Linked DNA regions of Homo sapiens. The protein of the gene in region 1 purifies or fractionates together with the protein of each later gene. This does not show direct contact. Each region holds a gene or a part of one and is shown on either strand. Other genes may lie near its edges.

Evidence for each region. The genes of interacting proteins can lie anywhere in the genome.
Region 2: the proteins of HMGXB4 (region 1) and LIN52 purify together in Homo sapiens (affinity purification with mass spectrometry, with the first as the bait; one large-scale study listed by BioGRID). This does not show direct contact.
Region 3: the proteins of HMGXB4 (region 1) and HJURP purify together in Homo sapiens (affinity purification with mass spectrometry, with the first as the bait; one large-scale study listed by BioGRID). This does not show direct contact.
Region 4: the proteins of HMGXB4 (region 1) and ARID4B purify together in Homo sapiens (affinity purification with mass spectrometry, with the first as the bait; one large-scale study listed by BioGRID). This does not show direct contact.

What each region holds. Positions count from the first base shown.
Region 1 is NC_000022.11:35,287,442-35,292,919, forward strand, and holds part of HMGXB4 (HMG domain-containing protein 4), read left to right. Parts: coding exon 1-11; intron 12-796; coding exon 797-966; intron 967-5,478. UniProt on the Homo sapiens protein: Negatively regulates Wnt/beta-catenin signaling during development.
Region 2 is NC_000014.9:74,094,109-74,099,516, reverse strand, and holds part of LIN52 (protein lin-52 homolog), read right to left. Parts: intron 3,570-5,408; coding exon 3,532-3,569; intron 2,855-3,531; exon of another isoform or gene 2,798-2,854; intron 1,724-2,797; coding exon 1,657-1,723; intron 1-1,656.
Region 3 is NC_000002.12:233,836,475-233,841,882, reverse strand, and holds the end of HJURP (Holliday junction recognition protein), read left to right. Parts: coding exon 1-1,274; intron 1,275-4,230; coding exon 4,231-4,306; 3' UTR 4,307-5,181; downstream 5,182-5,408. UniProt on the Homo sapiens protein: Centromeric protein that plays a central role in the incorporation and maintenance of histone H3-like variant CENPA at centromeres.
Region 4 is NC_000001.11:235,317,119-235,322,526, forward strand, and holds part of ARID4B (AT-rich interactive domain-containing protein 4B), read right to left. Parts: intron 1-5,408. UniProt on the Homo sapiens protein: Acts as a transcriptional repressor. May function in the assembly and/or enzymatic activity of the Sin3A corepressor complex or in mediating interactions between the complex and other regulatory complexes.

The DNA of each region.
Region 1 (5,478 bases):
GAAAGTCAAAGGTAGTGACCACATCCCGCCCCTGCTTTTCTCTAAAGCATGTGAATTTTGCTTCCTTGCTAAGAAACTGGGAAAAAAGCTTGCAGTATTAGAAGTGGACCTTGATTCCCAGGTATTATTACCTGGGAATGTTACAAGCTACCAAAAAGAGATGTTCAAATTTAGAAAATGCAAATCAGAAGTCAGCAAACTTTTTCTTTAAAGGTCCAGAGAGTAGACCAGGCGCAGTGGCTCATGCCTGTAATCCTAGCACTTTGGGAGGCCAAGGTGGGCGGATCACCTGAGGTCAGGAGTTCGACACCAGCCTAACCAACATGGAGAAACCCCGTCTCTACTGAAAATACAAAATTAGCCGGGCGTGGTGGCGCATACCTGTAATCCCAGCTACCAGAGAGGCTGAGGCAGGAGAATTGCTTGAACCCGGGAGGTGGAGGTTGCGGTGAGCCGAGATCGTGCCATGGCACTCCAGCCTGGGCAACAAGAGCAAAACTCCATCTCAAAAAAAAAAAGGTCCAGAGAGTAAATATTATAGGCCTTGTGTGCCGTATGCATTCTCGCATTCTCTGTCACATATTCTTTGTTTTTCTATAGCCCTTTAAGAATGTAAAACTATTCCTAACTCACAGGCCATAAAAAACAAGAGACCATAGACTGAATTTAGCCCACAGGCCACAGTTTTGCTAATGCCTGGTATAATTCATAAAAAGGGAAAATCAGGAAGAACAACTTTGTGTTGTTCAAGGCTGTAGGCAAGTTTTACCTGTCTGCCTCATTGCTCTGTTCTCAGCCTCTTCTGTAGGAGTACTGTCACCCCAGAAGAAGTCCCCACCCACCACCATGCTGTTACCAGCCTCACCAGCCAAAGCCCCTGAGACAGAGCCCATTGATGTTGCTGCTCATCTTCAGCTGTTGGGAGAGTCCCTAAGCCTCATTGGACACCGTCTGCAGGAAACTGAGGTGAATACAACTATCAGCAGCATGACTACAGTTTCCCATATAGTTTCCCATATAATTTTGATTCATTCACTCATTTTACATACATGTATTGAGCATCTACTTTATGCTAAATTATGCCAGGTTCTCAGGATGGCGTAACATAGAAGATATAATGATAATAACAGAAATATCTATAGAGATATTCAGTCTACCTGTTAGCTCTCAAAGTTTCACTAATGATATCCTATTGAAACAATGGCACAAAAAGAAATTGGAGTACCCTGTAACTTATTTTTATTTTTTTAAAATGCAGTGGAGGCTGGGCGCAGTGGCTCACGCCTGTAATGCTAATTTGGGAGGCCCACCTGGGAGAATCGCTTAAGGCCAAGAGTTCGAGACTAGCCTGGTCAACACAGTGAGACTCCATCTCAAAAAATACATATATTCAAAAAATTTAAAAGAAATAAAAATGGGGCCGGGCGTGGTGGCTTATGCCTGTAATCCCAGCACTTTGGGAGGCTGAGGCAGGCGGATCACGAGGTCAGGAGTTCAAGACCAGCCTGGCCAATATGGTGAAACCCTGTCTCTACTAAAAATACAAAAATTAGCCAGGTGTGGTGGCATGCACCTGTGGTCCCAGCTACTCGGGAGGCTGAGGCAAGAGAATCACTTGAACCTGGGAGGCAGAGGTTGCAGTGAGTCAAGATTGCGCTACTGTACTCCAGCCTGGGCGATAGAGCAAGACTCCATCACAAAAAAGAAAGAAAGAAAGAAAGAAAAACGCAGTGGTGGCTGGGCACGGTGGCCCATGTCTGTAATCCCAGCAATTTGGGAGACCAAGGCAGGAGGATCGCTTGAGGCCAGGAGTTGGAGAGCAGCCTGGGCAACATAGCGAGACCCCATTTCTACAAAAAATTAAAAAATTAGCCAGGCATGGTGGTGCACACCTGTAGTCCCAGCTACTCGGAAGGCTGAGGCAGATGGATTGCTTGAGCCCAGGAGCTCAAAGGCTGCAGTAAGCTATGATTGCTGCACTGCCCTCCAGCCTGGGTGACAGAGCAAGACCCTATCTTTTTTAAAAAAACAAAAACAAAAAGGCAAGAAAAAGGATGAGTACAAATTCCATAGCAGTTTTGATTACTTCTGTCTCCTTCTAAGAGACTTTGAATTTTTCTCTGCATTTCCAGCAAAGTCTTGAATATTCAATTGTATAGGAGATTAAGAGTTCCTCTGTTTTGAAAATAGGTAACAAATGGAGAAGTTAAGGTTCCCAGCTCTCCATTACTCTGCACTTAAATTATACAGTGCTATATGCCCTGGGGAGATTTTTGTCCTTTTAAGCTTCAATTTCAAAAATCACTTAACCTGCACAGCTGTCGTGTTTCATTTCTATTACCATATTCAATTTCTAACAATATTGTCCCCTTAGCTAACTCATTAGTATAGTAGTTCCGCTTTCCACCAAGTTCTAGTAAGACATTTCAGCAAAGAAGTCAGTCTAAGCTACTAAAGCCATTTTTAAGCTAAGAAATTAGTGTAGGAATGTAAAACTAATCACTTGCTTCAATGTGGAAATTGAATTATTCAACAAATAAAATGCCAAAGGCCACAAGAGCTGAAGCTATATCTAAATTCTTTGGCTAGTTTCTAAAAATTTTAGCAGTAGTCAAAAGAACTTCAGCACCTTCATATAGGCTCGATATCTGAATGGATATAGATATTTCCAGAAGAAGTATTCTATGACCTTACTTATTTTTCAGATTTAATCATTCTTACGTTTCGTAAGAAGTTAGAAGTAAAAACAGTTTGTTTTAAGCGTATTCTGAATTTTCCCAGATATTTCCATTTAGTTTAGTAAGTACAAAGTTCACCCTTTTAAAGTGCAGAATTTAGTGATTTTTAATATATTCACAGAATTGTGAATCACTACTATTTCATTCCAAAACATATTGTTACCCCTAAAAGAAACCCTGTACCAGCCAGGCGCGGTGGCTCACGCCTGTAATCCCAGCACTTTGGGAGGCCGAGGCAGGCAGATCATGAGGTCAGGAGATCGAGACCATCCTGGCAAACGTGGTGAAACCCCATCTCTACTAAAAATACAAAAAATTAGCTGGGCGTGGTGGCGGGCGCCTGTGAGAGGCTGAGGCAGGAGAATGGCGTGAACCCAGGAGGCGGAGCTTGCAGTGAGCCGAGATTGCGCCACTGCACTCCAGCCTGGGCGACGGAGCGAGACTCCGCCTCAAAAAAAAAAAAAAAAAAAAAAAGAAACCCTGTACCCATTGGCAGTTATTCCCCATTCTCCCTCTAATCCACTTTTGGCCCGAATTTAATCATTTGCATAGATCTCTGCAATTTTATAATTTCCACATACCACTTAATACTTTTACTTACTTTATAATTTTATTTAAATAAACTTGTCTGTGCTTTTACAGTGACATTCATGACATCTCAAGGGTTATATTCTATTTTTTTAATGTACATCGTAATGGACATATAATTATCAAAATAATATGTTCAGTAGTAAATTAATGTTCATCATTTTAGCAGTAAAACTGGAACATACAATGCATAAGTTAGAAAATTAAGGCTAGAGGCCGAGCACTGTTGCTTGTTCCTGTAATCCCAGGACTCTGGGAGCCAAAGTGGGAGGATCACCTGAGGCTAGCAGTTCGAGACCAGCCTGGCCAACATGGCAAAACCCCATCTCTACTAAAAATACAAAAATTAGCCAGTTGTGGTGGTGCACACCTGTAATCCTAGCTACTTGTGGGGCTAAGGCAGGAGAATCGCTTGAACCGGGAGGTGGAGGTTGCAGTGAGCCGAGATCACACCACTGCACTCCATCCAGCCTGGGCAACAGAGTGAGACCCTGTCTCAAAAAAAATAAAAATAAAAATTGTGCGTGTGTGTGGCGTGTGGTGTGTGTGTATCTTAAGAAAGTTAAAGCTAGAACCCAAATTGCAGAGGGACTTCATAGACATTCTGAAGTGTGTATACTTCACTGTTGGGGAACTACAGGGGTTTTTACAGTGGAAAGGGATGAGATCAGAGCTCTCATTTACTTTTCTCTGAGAATATCTTTTATTTTAGATTGGAAGTGAAAAGAGACCAGAATTGGGGAGAAGTTAAAACAATAATCCTAGTCTAGATGTGACAAAGATAAATTAGCTATAAATAAATATAGGGCAAAGGAAATGGAACAATATTACTAATTACTGACATTTTTGGGGTTTTAGCTATTATCTTCCCTGTATACTAATGTTTTATTGAAGGCTCACTCACCCAGCTTTGGTTCAGAGTGCTTAATATGAATTATATCATTTAATTCACACTGCAGCTTTGTGAGGCAGAATTTGTTCCCCCCATTTTACAGAAGAATAAACAGACTTAAAGAGGTGAAGTCACTTTCTCTAGAGTTTAGCCCCTAAGTGGTAAAATAGAGACTTGAATTTGGAATGTGACCTCAAGGTCCGGGTTCTTAACCTCTTACTGTACTGCTGCCCTCAGAAAGTATAGGGGGGAGATGTTGACAAGGAGGATGAGGGAAAGGAAGAGTCAGTGATGGCTAGGCCTTGAGACTGGGCAGTTATGTGAATGGTGGTGACTTTGGCAGAGAAATGGATGCTCAAAGGAGGGCTAGATTTGCATGGGAAGGTTATTCTTCCTTACAGGAAGTTGAGATGGAGAAATATCCAAAAGGAGAGACCCAAAAGACAGCCAGAAATGCAGTTTTGAAGATCAAGATGTTGGTAGTAATATTCATAATTACTGATATTTTTTGAGTACTTAACCATGTATTAAGCACCATCCCAAGTATATTATATCTATTATCTCAATCCCATCTGCTGCAGATGCTGTTAGTATCTTACAGGCACAGCATAGTAAGCAACTTGCCTAGGTACAAAACAGTGAGTAGTGGAGCCAGGATCTGGACCCGGGCAGTCTTGAATCCGGAGCTCATTTTCTTAAGGACTGTGCTGTGTTGCTTCCCAATATGACATATTCTCACACTGCTTCTAGTTAAAGCAGATTATACAAGAACTCGGCAGCAGCAACAGTCTTTCTTATCTCTTTGAATCACAAATAGACAATATGAATTACATAAAATGTTAAAATTTGAACCAAATTCACTTTGAGAGTGAACAACTCAACCTAGAAAAATTGTATAATCAGCTATCAAAAGCTACATACATGCAGGGTTGTAGGATTCTCATAGTAATCACATCTGAGCTATATTTGTCGAGTTTATAACAGATATACTTTGCATACATAATCACAAATCTTACCAACAGCTCTCCAGAGTAGGTAAAGCATTTTTTACTGTTCCTGTTAAGGAGACAGAAGTTAAGGATGTGAACTCCCCAAGGTCACTCAGAAGGTAAGAAGATGGGCTAGGATTACGGAAAGGGAACATGGGAATGTGCTGTAAAAGTTTTCTTTCTAAACAACTTACAGAGTTATCAAAGTAAACTTTCCATTTCTGCTGTAAAGTTTCAAATTATAAGAGTAGAACTGCCTAGGATTTAAAGT
Region 2 (5,408 bases), on another chromosome or scaffold:
ACACAGGTCAGTTTGCATAGAATATAATGCTATGATCCCTCACTAAAAATTTAAAGTTGCCTTAAGAAATACATGCTGATGAGATATTATATAAATGTCTGTTTGAAACATTAGAAGAATGAACCTGAGATGCCCTTGAGACTTAATTTTTCCATGGCAGGAGGAGGGAATCTGCATTTAAGCATTTCATAAAGAACAATGAATTACTTCTAAAATCAAATAAAGGTGTTTTTTTTTAATCTCATTTATCATGCCACAGTCATTATCTACACCTAGCATAAGTAGACTTTCTTGATATGTTCAGCTGTTTAAATACCTCAAGAATCCCAGGTTTTTACCTTAATTTCAGTCTATTACTTCACAATCATCATGAATCTTATCACCAGAAGGATGATAAAATAAATAAAGTAGGGCAAAATCATGGAAAATTAATGTTTTTTAATTTAAATTTCCACTTTGTGATTGAGTTTCAAATCATTTATCAAACAACAATATTCACTACTTATAGTATTCTTTATAGAAGAAATTGATGGGATAAAAAAATAAAAAATAGGTCTTAACCCACTAAGAGGTTGTCATTTAATAGTACTGACAATATATGGCAGTAAATTCTAAATAAGGCACTTGTGTTATAATGGAAAGAGGCTAGACTTAAAAAAGCAGAGTTTACGCGGGGCGTGGTGGCTCACGCCTGTAATCCCAGCACTCTGGGAGGCCGAGGTGGGTGGATCACTGGAGGTCAGGAGTTTGAGACCAGCCTGGCCAACATGGTGAAACCCCATCTCTACTAAAACTACAAAAATTAGCTGGACGTGGTGGGGGATGCCTGTAATTCCAGCTACTCGGGAGGCTGAGGCAGGAGAATCGCTTGAACCCAGGAGGCGGAGGTTGCAGTGAGCCGAGATCGCACCACTGCACTCCAGCCTGGGCAACAAAAGCGAGACTCCGTCTGAAAAAAAAAAAAAACCAGAGTTAAAATTTTTTAACTTTTTTTTTTTTTTGAGATAGAGTCCTGCTCTGTCAGCCAGGCTGGAGTGCAGTGGAACTATTGTTCGCCACAACCTCTGTCTTCTAGGTTCAAGTGATTCTCCTGACTCAGCCTCCAGAGTAGCTGGGATTACAGGAGCTTGCCACCATGCCTGGTTGATTTTTGTATTTTTAGTAGAGACGTGGTTTCGTTATATTGGTCAGTCTGGTCTCAAACTCCTGACCTCCAGTGATCCACCCACCTCGGCCTCCCAAAATGCTAAGATTACAGACATGAGCCACGCCTAGCCAAATTTTAACTCATTCTATCTTGGTTAACTTATGAACTTTGAATATCATCATACCCAACTCACAGGACCTTTATGGGAATTAAATGAAAAAATTTATGTTAGAGCTATTCGTTAACTGTATTATACAAAATCAGGTTCACATTAGAAGAATTTAGCACCAGCAGCAGAATTCACTATGACTGAGTCTTGAATTGGCAGGATTTCTACACATGGAAAAGGTAGAGAAGGGCATTGCAGACATGAAAAACTACAAATAAGGAGGTTTAAATGAGAAGTCTGAAGCCAAAAATACTTGTAAGGAAACAGAAAAAAAAAATAGAGAGGTGGTCTATGGAAAAACATAAATATCCAGTTAAAAGTGGTAACTAGCATCACTTACCTTTCAACATGTCGATGTCATCACGTTCTATCTCAGCCATCCATTTGGGTGGAGAACTAGTAATAGGCTGTCAAAAAATAATATATCCATTCAGACACATAAAAAGTGTGAGGAGACCCTATTATTCTTATAAGAAGTGTAGCCTGGGCCGGATGCGGTGGCTGCCAAGGTGGGCGGATTACTTGAGGTCAGGAGTCAGGAGTTCGAGACCCGCCTGGCCAACATGGGGAAACCCCATCTCTACTAAAAATACAAAAAAAATTAGCCAGGCGTGATGGCACACACCTGTAATCTCAGCTACTTGGGAGGGTGAGGCACGAGAATTGCTTGAACCTCTTGAATGTGGGAGGCAGAGGTTGCAGTGAACCAAGATTGTGCCACTGTACTCCAGCCTGGGTAAGAGTATTACTCTGTCTCAAAAAAAAAAAAAAAAAAGAAAAAGAAAAAATGCAGCTTGTCACATAGCCTTCAGGTTGTTTGGAAATACTGGCAGATTATAATTTCAAAAACCTGGATTTCTCCAGGTTTAGATATGGCCTACAAATAGTCACTGCAAAAAACATGGCTCATCTTGAAAGTCAGTCTCAGAGAAATCACTGTGGAAGAATAGGTATGACCACTATTACTGATTTATGCCTAACAAGTTAGTATAGCAATGAATGAAATTACTTGAAATTCAGTTCTGGTGAAAGCCTCCAATTCAACTGTTTGAAACACTAATCAGTAAGTAACATTCTCTGGCATACGGGAGATTCAAAGAAGAATCAAGAATGAGAAAATCATCATTTTAAGTGAGAGAAGTCTGGAATGGTCATCACTTGGAATTTCACAATTTTATTGTAGAGGTTTTAGGAAACTTCAGAATTTTACAATTTTTCATTTATGAAAGTGAACTTAAAACTATGAAAGAAAGCCCATTCTTAGAATAGCTCTGGGTTGGCAGTTTAATGCTAGTTGCACACGAGAATCACCTGTGTAACTTTTAAAACTATAAATGCCTTGGCCACACTCCAGACATAATGATTTAGAATATGAGGGGTAGGGAAGGGTCCAGTGGAAAAAGTAGAGCAAGGGACTCCTCATATGTGCTTTTCTTTTTTTATATTTAATTAATTTTTTTCTTGGTGCTCATTTGTTACAGTGCATTTTTCAAGAGCTCCATAGCTGCATGTTGATGATTCTGTCATGCACAAAAGGTAGGGTTGAGAAACATTATTTCAGCTTTGCGTCTTTCTCTTTTTTTAATTAAAATGTACTCAGAACCTATTATGTGACAAGCAAAACACTTTACATGCATCAAGTCATTTACCTCCAAATCAACTCTATAAAGTAGGTATTTTTTTCACATTAAAAAAAACAAAAAAACAAAAACACATACATTGGCTCACACCTGTAATCCTAATGCTATGGGAGGCTGGAGCAGGAGGATCACTTGAACCCAGGAGTTCAAGACCAGCCTGGGAAATATAGTGAGACCTCTTCTCCACAAAAAATTTTAAAAGGCCAGGCGCGGTGGCTCACACCTGTAATCCCAGCACTTTGGGAGGCTGAGGTAGGTGGATCACTTGAGGTCAGGAGTTTGAGACCAGCCTGACCAAGATGGTGAACCCCGTCTCTACTAAAAATACAAAAATTAGCTGGGCGTGGTGGTGGGCACCTGTAATCCCAGCTACTCAGGAGGCTGAGGCAGGAGAATCGCTTGAACTTGGTAAGTGGAAGTTGCAGTGAGCCGAGATCGTACCACTGCACTCCAGCCTGGGCGAAGAGTGAGACTCTGCCATAAATAAAATAAAATAAAATAAAGAACAGAGATCTGAGCTTTTACTCAGGAGCGAAACTTTGGATTGACCTCAGTAGGTAAGGGATATTACTTACACTTTTGAAGGAAGCTGCAAATTCAGCAACACCTGGTACTAAAAAGAAAAACAAAACTTTATTTATTCAATAAGTATGATTGCTCAGGCATAGAAGATCCAAATAATAAGAAAACAGCTTTGTCTGTTTTCTTATAGTTTAGAAGAAGAGAAAGAATAAACCAATAACTATAACACTGTTTCAGTCCTCAAAGAAAGATGCCAGGACTATGGCAAGACAAAAAATGGCAAGCTAAGTCAGACCCAGGGGGCATAAAAAGCTTCTCAAGGAAAATAATGCCTCAACTGAACTTGGAAGGACCAGGAGTTAGCTGGTTGGGAGGGTGGTAAGATACAATATCTCTTACCAGAAAGTTTAAACTGCCTTTTTAGAGATGCTGTTCTGTCAATCCAATTTTATTTATTTAAATTTCTCACAGAAAGAATCACATTAAAATGCAGAAAAATAAAAATCAGGGCTGGGCATTTTGAGAAGTCAAGGCAGGAGGATCCCTTGAAGATCAGCCTGGGCAACAGGGCAAGACCCCAGACTCTACAAAAAATTAAAAAACGGGCCGGGTGCAGTGGCTCATGCCTGTAGTCCCAGCACTTTGGGAGGCTGAAGCGGGTGAATCACTCGAGCTCAGGAGTTGGAGACCAGCCTGGGCAATATAGTGAAACCCCGTCTCTACAAAAAATACAAAATTTAGCCAGGCGTAGTGATGTGCCCCTGTAGTCCTAGCTACTTGGAAGGCTTGAGCCCGGGAAGTTGAGGCTGAAATGAGCCATGATCACACCACTGCACTCCAAACTGGGCAACAGAGGAAGACCCTGTCTCAAAAAAAAAAAAAAAAAAAACAGTTAGTTGGGCATGGTAATGCACACCTATAGTCCTAGCTACTTAGGAGGCTGAGGCAGGAGGATGGCTTGAACTCAGGAGTTGGAGGCTGCAGTAAGCTATCATCGTGACATTGCACTTTAGCCTGGGTGATAGGATGAGCCTCTGTCTCTAAAAAAAATATATAATTAAAATAACATCTTTGCCTGAGCTCAGGAGTTGGAGACCAGCCTGGGCAACACAGTGAAACCCCGTCTCTACTAAAATACAAAAGATTAGCTGGGTGTGGCGGCATGTGCCTGTAGTCCCAGCTATTCAGGAGGCTGAGGCAGGAGAATTGCTTGAACCCGGGAGGTGGAGGTTGCAGTGAGCTGAGATCACGCCATTGCACTCCAACCTGGGCAACAGAGCGAGACTCCATCTCAAAAAAAAAAAAGTTCAATCTCACCAAAAAGGAAATGTAAAATGAAACTAATAGATTAGTAACATCTAATACTGGCTAGTATGTGAGGAAAGGGGCCCTCATACAGTTATCCTCTTCCATGTATATGAAGATATGTGTACATGGGTATTCACTGATAAACTGTCTGTAAAGTCAAAAACTAGATATAGGCCAGGCACAGTGCCTCACACCTGTAATCCCAGTGCTCTGGGAGGCCAAGGTGGAAAGACAGCCTGAGCCCAGGAGTCTGAGACCAGTCTGGGCAACACAGTGAGATCTTGTCCCCCCCAAAATTTTTTAAATAGCTGGTTGTGGTGGTACATGCCTGTGGTCCCAGCTACTCAGGAGGCTGAAGTGAGAGGATCACTTGAGCCCAGGAGGTTGAGGCTGCAGTCAGCTGTGATCACGCCACTGCACAAAGCCTGGGTGACAGAGTGAGACCCTTGCTCAAATTAAAAAAAAAAAAAAACTACAAAGTAGATATAACTTAAGTTTCCAAATAATGTATGAATACATAAACTATAATATATCCATACAATGAAATATATTTAAAAGAATGAAGTAGACATACACATACCAAGATGGAACTGTTCACATGTGGAGTAAGTTAAGTGGCAGG
Region 3 (5,408 bases), on another chromosome or scaffold:
AGATATAAGAGCAGGATGAACAAAACATATTGCAAAGGAGCCAGACGTTCTCAGAGGAGCTCCAAGGAGAACTTCATACCCTGCTCTGAGCCTGTGAAAGGGACAGGGGCATTAAGAGATTGCAAGAACGTATTAGATGTTTCTTGCCGTAAGACAGGTTTAAAATTGGAAAAAGCTTTTCTTGAAGTCAACAGACCCCAAATCCATAAGTTAGATCCAAGTTGGAAGGAGCGCAAAGTGACACCCTCGAAGTATTCTTCCTTGATTTACTTCGACTCCAGTGCAACATATAATCTTGATGAGGAAAATAGATTTAGGACATTAAAATGGTTAATTTCTCCTGTAAAAATAGTTTCCAGACCAACAATACGACAGGGCCATGGAGAGAACCGTCAGAGGGAGATTGAAATCCGATTTGATCAGCTTCATCGGGAATATTGCCTGAGTCCCAGGAACCAGCCTCGCCGGATGTGCCTCCCGGACTCCTGGGCCATGAACATGTACAGAGGGGGTCCTGCGAGTCCTGGTGGCCTTCAGGGCTTAGAAACCCGCAGGCTGAGTTTACCTTCCAGCAAAGCAAAAGCAAAAAGTTTAAGTGAGGCTTTTGAAAACCTAGGCAAAAGATCTCTGGAAGCAGGTAGGTGCCTGCCCAAGAGCGATTCATCTTCATCACTTCCAAAGACCAACCCCACACACAGCGCAACTCGCCCGCAGCAGACATCTGACCTTCACGTTCAGGGAAATAGTTCTGGAATATTTAGAAAGTCAGTGTCACCCAGCAAAACTCTTTCAGTCCCAGATAAAGAAGTGCCAGGCCACGGAAGGAATCGTTACGATGAAATTAAAGAAGAATTTGACAAGCTTCATCAAAAGTATTGCCTCAAATCTCCTGGGCAGATGACAGTGCCTTTATGTATTGGAGTGTCTACAGATAAAGCAAGTATGGAAGTTCGATATCAAACAGAAGGCTTCTTAGGAAAATTAAATCCAGACCCTCACTTCCAGGGTTTCCAGAAGTTGCCATCATCACCCCTGGGGTGCAGAAAAAGTCTACTGGGCTCAACTGCAATTGAGGCTCCTTCATCTACATGTGTTGCTCGTGCCATCACGAGGGATGGCACGAGGGACCATCAGTTCCCTGCAAAAAGACCCAGGCTATCAGAACCCCAGGGCTCCGGACGCCAGGGCAATTCCCTGGGTGCCTCAGATGGGGTGGACAACACCGTCAGACCGGGAGACCAGGGCAGCTCTTCACAGCCCAACTCAGAAGAGAGGTAGGTGTGTTTCTGTTGGTTGAATGTGGTTTATGTGAGTGACTGCTCTTTGGACAGAGGCTTTTTATGGTAGGAATCTTTGCGCCACGTTTAGTGAATCTCAGCCGAATTCTTACATACGTGATCATTTTCTGAGCTTTCTCCCAAATGCTTTTCCTTCCTGTAAAGTCAGCGTCTCTATCAAGAATGTGTCCCTGTGTAAGATGCATCGAGGTAAAGCAGAAAGTGCTCTTGCAGAAGTTTCACACTTTCCATTAGAATGCATTCAGAGGCTTTTTTCCTGCAAATCCTCACTTACTACGCTTTATTCGTCTTTGTCAAACCTTCATTTCTAACCTCTTCATCTGACACTCAGAAAATAGCTGTTGTAAGGCGAAAGTGATCTAAAGCGAATGACTTCCTATTTCTGGATTCCTGGTAGGGAAAGAGCAAGAGTGGCCTGGGAGAGCCACGAGCACAGTATTCTCACAGGTGCGAGGGGTGCCCTGCAGATATCTCAGTGCTCAGTGTTAAAACTTCTGCACCTTGTTCTGCAGCTTAATTTGTGCGAATCATGTCAGCTAGAGTTTTAGTCTGCGTGTGCCCTTTTCTCTAGAGACAGTGGGGTGGGGTGGGTCAGTGGGAGTGAGTACCTTTGTTGGCATTAAAGGTTGGATTCCCCAGCACAGCTTCTCTGTGTGTCCACAGTCAGGATCTGGAGGATGCGACTTTCTTAACCCACAGGTGGACGGGACTTGACTGTGGGTTTGATTTGGCCGGTTCCTTTGGGTTTTGTGTGTTTGTGGTTCCAGCAGGTGAGGCCGTGTCTCCAGTATCCTCTTCCCTTGTGCCCTAGCCTGGCGATGTGCCTCTTCTCTGAGGTCATTTGGGTGGACCCTGCCTGCCATAAGTGTCCCATTTTCTGTTTCTCCCACCTGGACCCGCCTGGCCTGCGAGCCCTTCTCAGCCACTGGCTCCTGCCGTGCGTCCAGCTCAGAACCAAGGTCTGGTATGCCTTGTTCCTTCTGTGGTGCCTGCCTTCGAAGCCTGCAGTCCCGCCTGTGCATGGCAGAGACCACACTCTCAGACCGCCAGCGGCCTCCTGTGGCTTGAGCCCCCTGGGGCCTTTCTCACTGTCACTCTGTCTTCCCAATGCCCTTGGACTGCTCAGGGCCACCTGCTCCAGGGTCTGCCGTAGGACAGCCCTTCCCTTCCAGGGAACTTTCACTGGCATTCTCCCCCTACTCCCCAGTTCTTTGCTATTGCATCCTCGGACATCCTCCCTAGACTCCACCCACCGCTCAGCTGCCTGCTCCGTGCAGGTAACCCCCACCCTCCCAGGGGCTGCACATGGTGGGTGCTGCAGTGGGGAGCTGTCTGGACACAGACCAGTCTCATGGGTTAGCGGCTCAGGCTCCTTGGCTCAGTTCTAGAAGCTCCCAGGTTTTGTTGGATGTTTTGGTTTTCAAAGTTATTTTCGTGTATAAAGTCATACTGTGTGAGCTAACCAGAAGCAGATGAAACAAGCCTTGGTTGTCATCTGTCTTCCCAGTTGAGGATGGACATACGTAAGTGTTCAGGTGATGGGAAAGGTTTTTCTCTGCAGGGCCCCAGCTAGGGTCAGGGGCACTGTGTGGGCAGGGCCCTCGGAGCTCCTCCCCTGGCAGTGCACGGCTAACAGCAGTCTTTCCCTCGGGTCTTGGTCTCCAACTGTGTGCCTGATGCCCACTCCTGTGCCCACTTGGGGCTTTTTCAGACCAAACCACCAGCCGGGTGACTTTCAGCCACAGTTAGTGAAGCCTTCAAGAATCTCAGCTACATCTTCATGGCAGACACTTCATGGAGGCTGCTTTGAGGCAAAGTTTATGCGTTCTGTTTAACAGATGACCTCTCAAGAGTCTCCTTCTCAGTTGAAAGGGGAGAATTTCACCAAAAACAACTGTCCGGCCCAGAGAGAGATCTGAGGTTTCTCCTGGTCTCCCACACATCAGAGCTCCTCTGCTCTGCTCGTCCTGCTTGTCTAAACCTAACTGCTTTTTCTCAGATAGTGCCCCAGCTCTTCCTTTTACCATCATCCTGCCCCTGGGATTTTGTCTCGTGCCTTTTCCCACCTTGTTCCATGATCTGGCACCGTGCCAGTCGCCTGCAGACCCCTTTCCATGAGTGACATCTGCCCCAGTGCTCCGTGCAGAGGCTCCTGCCTTGCTTTTTCACCTGCTCAGTCTAAAGGGCTTTCTTCTGGCCCAGCCACACAGGAGGGACCTCGGCCTTGTAGAGAATGGTGTGAGGTTGCATTATTGTGGGACCATCCTGAGGACTCAGCCCTTGGTGGCCCCGCAGGGCCCTCCCAGCTACCCTGGAATTTGATAGCAAGTCAAATCATGAACACCCCAGGTTTCATTTTAAACCACAATATAAACATGTTTAACTGGTTTCCTATGTTTTTCTGCTTTTCCCGCTTAAATGATAGATTTCTTGAGGAAAGAGACCAATTCTTCATGAGCTGCAACTACATATGGAGTTTTCATGCCTAACGTCTGAGTGCTCTCTGTGTGCCAGGCCATGCTGAACCGTTTTTACGTCTTATCTTCTTTCATCCCCACCAGAACCCCTTGATTAGATCGATTCTGTCCAATAGGCAGGCTGTCTCTCCTTTTAATAGATATGGAAAAGTAGCTTAAGTCTTAGAACTCCTAAATTCACTCGTGCAGCAGCGCTAGCTGGGCCAGGGTGTGGGATGTGGACTTCCCCACCAGCTTGTGCTCCCTGGGGGAGTGTGGGGAGCAGGGTCGGGGGGTTGCCATTATATTTTTGTTGTTTCTTTAACATAACTTACTTATTTAACGTAATGCCACTTTCTATAAGTATTTTTATACATGCAATGGAATAAGTAGAAAACAGTTAACCTTTTAGTGGCTGGCATTGGGAATTCTAGAATTTTGCTAACATCATTTTCTTTGTCTTTTTTTTTTCCTAGAGGAGAGAACACGTCTTACAGGATGGAAGAGAAAAGTGATTTCATGCTAGAAAAATTGGAAACTAAAAGTGTGTAGCTAGGTTATTTCGGAGTGTTATTTATCTTCCCACTTGCTCTCTGTTTGTATTTTTGTTTTGTTTTTGATTCTTGAGACTGTGAGGACTTGGTTGACTTCTCTGCCCTTAAAGTAAATATTAGTGAAATTGGTTCCATCAGAGATAACCTCGAGTTCTTGGTGTAGAAATTATGTGAATAAAGTTGCTCAATTAGAATTTTTAGGGTTCTCTTTGATAGGCCTGTTTTTCTGATGTGTGTGTTTTTTTTGGGGGGGGGTTATTTGTTTGTTTGTTTGTTTGTTTGTTTGTTTTTGAGACAGTCTCTCTCTATCGCCCAGGCTGGAGTGCGGTGGCACAATCTTGGCTCACTGCAACTTCCGCCTCCCGGGTTCAAGCGATTCTTCTGCCTCAGCCTCCCGAGTAGCTGGGATTACAGGCGCGCGCCACCACGCCTGGCTAATTTTTGTAGTTTTAGTAGAGACGGGGTTTCACCATATTGACCAGGCTGGTCTCGAGCTCCTGGCCTCGTGATCCATCTGCCTCGGCCTCCCAAAGTGCTGGGATTATAGGCGTGAGCCACTGCTCCCAGCCGTGTGTTCTTTTTTAAATTTAGATATGTCCAGAGAATCCTCTCTCCTGTTTCCCATTTCATTCGAGAATATTGTTTGCTTGTGAGACGTAAGTTCGAGCCCTGCATGCAATGACCCTTGAAGGAAAATAAACAGTCCTGGTGGTCCCAGACGCTCCTGCAGCCACAGCGCCTGTGACTCCTCATGATTCTTACTGAAGCTGTTGATGACAGGATATCATGGTGACGTTTTTGTAATGAAATATTTCACATATTCAGAATACATTGGTGAAACTCATGCTGGAGTAAATAGTTAATATATGGCCATATGAGTTTGGGTTTTTTTTTTTTATGAAAGATTTAAAATGAGATTAAATTACACATTTTTCATTCCCGCCTGCCGCCCCAGGCGATTGCTCTCCTGATGTCAGGTATCACCCCCATACCCTGCCCCATATCTCTTCCCCCCTGCGTCTTACATTGGGACCATGTTATGTGTGTGTGTGCGTGCGCACCTGCATGCTCAGGCTGCCATAACAATGCTGGAGACCAGG
Region 4 (5,408 bases), on another chromosome or scaffold:
AATTTTTTTCTGATTCTGCAATGATTTAAGCAAAAATAAATTTGAAAATAAAATGAACAGTGACTAGTTGATTACTTTTTCTTTAATGGTAAAAGTAGAAGGATATAGAAACAACTCTTCCTATTAAATAGATTAGCAGCAGATCAGTCAACAGATGATACCACAGAGCTGTGTTTCTTAACATTTGTACTGTGGGTTTCATCAAGAATCTGATGAAAGCTATCTATGGCTCCTCTCCTCTGAAGCCTACACTTGGACTTTCTGAGTAATATATGAGCAAGCGTTAATTAAGGAAAGGGGAAACTATGCTCAGAGTAAGCCAAGTATTGTTTTAAAACTTTTCCCTTTTTGACTCTTTCATTATGTCCCTTGCTTCTATTAACCAGCTTAAAATAACAGCCACTATGGTAAGGTGAACATGAAGATAGTTTGTCTATGCTGACCTTAGTAGACCTGCTTTTTATTTTCTAGTAAACTGTTTATATACTTCCATAAACTCATTTTTTTCTTCCCCAAATCTGAATGCTGTCTCCAATTTTAGAACGAAAATTATGATTTCTAAAAGCACATTATTTTCTACGGAAACCTTGAATACCAGAGTTTCCTGTACTCCTAAGAGATCCAAAGAGCCAGGAATTTCTACCTGTTTTGTTCCCTGACATATTCCAACTGACTAGAACAGAGACCAATACATAATAAGTATTCAATAAATATTGAATTAATTTTTTAAATGTCCAACTCCTTGGTGGCCACTTGCCACAACACAAAATACATGAAGTTAAATACTCAGCACTCCCCAGGTTATCACACAGGTAATATTAGTACCCTAAGAACTGAAAGGTCCACTCCCAGGACCCAAGAGAATTAAAAATACATGTTCGCACAGAAACTTACATACAAATGCTCATAGCAGCATTACTCACAATAAGCAAAAAAGCAGAAATAACCCACATGTCCTCCAAATAAGTAGACTGACAAAATGTCGTATCTTCATAAGATGGACTATTATTCAGCAATAAAAAAGAGCATAGTATTAACACTTGCTACTCCTTTTTTTTTTTTTTTTTTTTTTTTTTGAGACGGAGTCTTGATCTGACACCTAGGCTGGAGTGCAGTGGCGCCATCGCAGCTCACTGCAACCTTTGCCTCCCAGGTTCAAGCAATTCTCTGCCTCAGCCTCCTGAGTAGCTGGGATTACAGGCGCCCACCACCACACCCGGCTAATTTTTTTATTTAGTACAGATGGGGTTTCACCATCTTGGCCAGGCTGGTCTTGAACTCCTGACATCGTGATCCACCCACATCGGCTTCCCAAAGTGCTGGGATTACAGGCGTGAGCCATCGCGCCTGGTCAACACTTGCTACTTCTTTCACTTATGGGAAGTAAAAGAAATCAGACACAAAAAGGCCACATATGTATTACAGGATTCCGTTAACAGAAAATGCCCAGAATACGCAAATCCTTATAGACAGAAAGTAAATGCTAAGCTCAGTGTCTGAATCTTGTAATCCCAGCACTTTGGGGGCCAATGCAAGAGGATCACTTGAGCTCAGGAGTTCCAGACCAGGCTAGGGAACATAGTGAGACTTCACTACTACAAAAAATTCCAAAATTTGCTGGGCATGGTGGCGCACACCTGTAATCCCATCTACTTGGGAGCTGGAGGCAGGAAGATCGCTTGAACCCAGGAGGTCGATGCTGCAGTGAGCCATGGTCGAGCCACTGCACTCCAGCCTGGGTGACAGAATCAAAACTCTTCTCAAAAAAAAAATTTAGATTAGTTACTGGAGGGATAAAAGAAAGGGAGAACAGTGAATGACTGCTAATGGATAAGAAGTTTCTTGTTGGGAATTTGGAAATGTTCTGGAGTTAAATAGCAGTGACAGATAGCTAGGGATAAGTAACGTGCCTGAAGTCTCAGCTACTCAGGAAGTTGAGGGGGAAAGATCACTTGACCACAAGAGTTCAAGGCCAGCCTAGGTAACACAGCAAGACCTCATCTCTAAAAAAACAAACAAAAGAAATTAACAAAAAAGTTTTCAAAAGATAGTAGTGATGGATGCACAAACTTGTGAAAATACTAGAAATTTATGAACACTTTAAAAAGGTGAATTTGGTGAGGCGCGGTGGCTCATGCCTGTAATCCCAACACTTTGGTAGGCCAAGATGGGAGGATCATTTGAGCCCAGGAGTTCAAGACCAGCCTGGGCAACACAGTGAGACCTCCACAGAAAATTTAAAAGTTAGCTGGGCATGGTGCCGTGCACCTCTGGTCCCAGCTACCTGGGAGGTTGAAGCAGGATCACATGAGCCCACTGAAGATCAAGGCTGCAGTGAGCTGTGATTGCGCCACTACACTCCTGCCTGGGCAACAGACTGTGGCCATGTCTCAAAAAAAATAAAATAAAAGGGTGAATTTTATGGTATGTGAATTATATCTCATTTTTTTTAATTAAAAAAACAAGTGAAAGGATTGCTCAACTCAATGTTCACTGCTCACTGAGAAGGCTAAGATTTGACAATGCCTTCATGGTCATACTCAGTTCCAAGAATCCCATCTACCAACTAATCACAGCAAAAAGACTTTTTTAAAAAAAGGGAGGACGGCCAGGTGCAGTGGCTCACACTTTGGGAGGCCAAGGCGGGCGGATCACTTAAGGTCAGGAGTTCAGAACCATCCTGGCCAACATGGTGAAACCCCATTGCTACTAAAAACACAAAAAAAAAGGCCGGGCGAGGTGACTCACACCTGTAATCCCAGCACTCTGGGAGGCCGAGGCAGGTGGATAACAAGGTCAGGAGTTTGAGACCAGCCTGGCCAACATGGTGAAACCCCGTCTCTACTAAAAATACAAAAATTAGCCAGACATGGTGGCACATGCCTGTAGTCCCAGCTACTTGGGAGGCTGAGGCAGGAGAATCGCTTGAACCTGGGAGGCAGAGGTTGCAGTGAGCCGAGATCGTGCCATTGCACTCCAACCTGGGTAACGAGCGAAACTCCGTCTAAAAAAAAAAAAACAAAAAATACAAAAAAAATTAGCCAGGCGTGGTGGCAGGTGCCTGTAATCCCAGCTACAGGGGAGTCTGGGGCAAGAGAATTACTTAAACTCGGGAGACAGAGGCTGCAGTGAGCCGAGATCACATCACTGCACTCCAGCCTAGGCAACAGAGAGAGGCTCCGTCTCAAAAGAAAAGGAGGGAGGGCACTTGTGGGAGGACATACATGTGCAAGTTGCAGTAAGTAGAATTTTCCCTTCACACCCAATCCATTGAAATCCAATCATCCCCATCTTCAAATATATTCCCAATACTACTATTTCTCCTCACCACCATCTCTCCCCAGGACTAGCTTGACAGCCTTCTGACTGATCTCCCTACTTCCACTCTTGTGTTCCCATGATCTGTTCGAACCCATGATGTGTTCACTACCCAGCAGTCAAACATTTTTGAAAATGTTTATCACATCACTTCACTCAACACCCTTCAAAGGGTTCCTAACACATTCAGATTTTACTCAAGTCCTTACCATGTCCTATAAGGCCCTACAATTGTACTGGCCCTTTGTGACCCTCTCTGACCTCCTCTCCTACCACTCCAGCCCTGATGGCCTTAATGTTCCTTAAATGTATCACACTCAAACATGCCAAGCACACTCCATCTCAGGGTATTTGCACTTGTTTTCTGCAGGGAATGCTCCTCCCCCAGAAACCTGAATGGCTCACTCTATCACTTGTTTCACAGCACACTTAAATGTCATCTCGAAAAGGCCCTCCATTATCACCTAATCTAAAGTAACCCACCCTCTGTCACTCTAACCTCTTATTCTGATTCCGTATCATTTCTCTTCAAAGCACTTAGCATTATTTTTTTTCTTAACGTGTGTCCACCATAGTAGAAAGTAAACTCCACGAGGGTAAGAACTCTTGTTCTATTCACTGCTGCATCCTCAAAACCCAGAACAATGTCCGGTACAAGGAAAGTACACAATGTGTTCAATGACTGAATTCACTGGCTGACTTGGCAAAAACATTCTTCAGTGACATAGGTACTCACCTAGTATTTTTTTTAATTACAATAAACAAAGATTTAGCAATTTGGACAGAAAACATGTTAGTATTTTACAAGATTACCTATTCATCTAAAGGACCACAAATTTATAGCACAAAATTTGCCATGTTATGGATCTTAAATCCCTTCAAATATCATAGATATGAGGTTAACATTCACACCAGATTAACCAAGCCTCTGACTTCATCCTACCTACTTACTCTTACATCTTAACTAGCAGGTCCAATGACAGCATGCTTCAAATGACAGTAACATCTATCTAATTTCCTAAGAAAAAAACCTCCATCTTCTTCCTACCCCAGGATGAGTTACTAGGTCCTGAATTCTACTTCTTTTAAGACAGACTCTTGCTCTGTCGCCCAGGCTGGAGTGCAGTGGCGTGATCTCGGCTCACTGCAAGCTCCGCCTCCCAGGTTCGCACCATTCTCCTGCCTCAGCGTCCTACAGGCGCCCGCTACCAAGCCTGGCTAATTTCTATTTTTTGTATTTTTTTAGTAGAGACGGGGTTTCACTGTGTTAGCCAGGATGGTCTCAATCTCCTGACCTCATGATCCACCCACCTCAGCCTCCCAAAGTGCTGGGATTACAGGTGTGAGCCACTGTGCCCGGCCCTGAATTCTACTTCAAAAAGGCTCAGATCTATCCTCTCTGCTCCACTTCCAATGCATTAGTTCAGGCCCTTATTCATTTTCCACTTGGACTTCTTACCTGGAATTTCCATCCTTACATTCAGCTCTCCCCTTGTTTTTGCAGTGGCCTGATCTCAGCTCACCGCAACCTCCAGCTCCTGGGTTCAAGCAATTCTCAACAACTTTCAATGGTTCCATGTAGTTTTCAAGAAAAAATTTTTTTTTTTTTGAGACAGAGTATTGCTCTTGTCACCCAGGCTGGAGTGCAATGGCATGATCTCGGCTCACTGTAACCTCCACCTCCCGTGTTCAAGCTATTCTTCTGCCTCAGCCTCCCTAATAGCTGGCATTACAGGCTCACACCACCATGCCCTGCTAATTTTGTATTTTTAGTAGAAACAGGGTTTCACCATGTTGGCCAGGCTGGTATAGAACTCAGGTGATCCACCTGCCTCAACCTCCCAAAGTGCTGGGATTACAGGTGTGAGACACCATGCCTGGCCAAGAAAATTTTCGACTCCCTCACTCAGCTTCATCTCCCACCACTGCCCTTTTATTCCTACCCAAACATATCATGCTTTAAGTTAATTCAGTCACACCAAATTACTTACAGTTTCCAGATACTTCACCTTGTTTCGTTCATTTTCCAGTACGTTATCCTCTATCTGAAAAACTTTTCTTCCCTTCTTTGCCTAGCAAAAGCCTTCGCA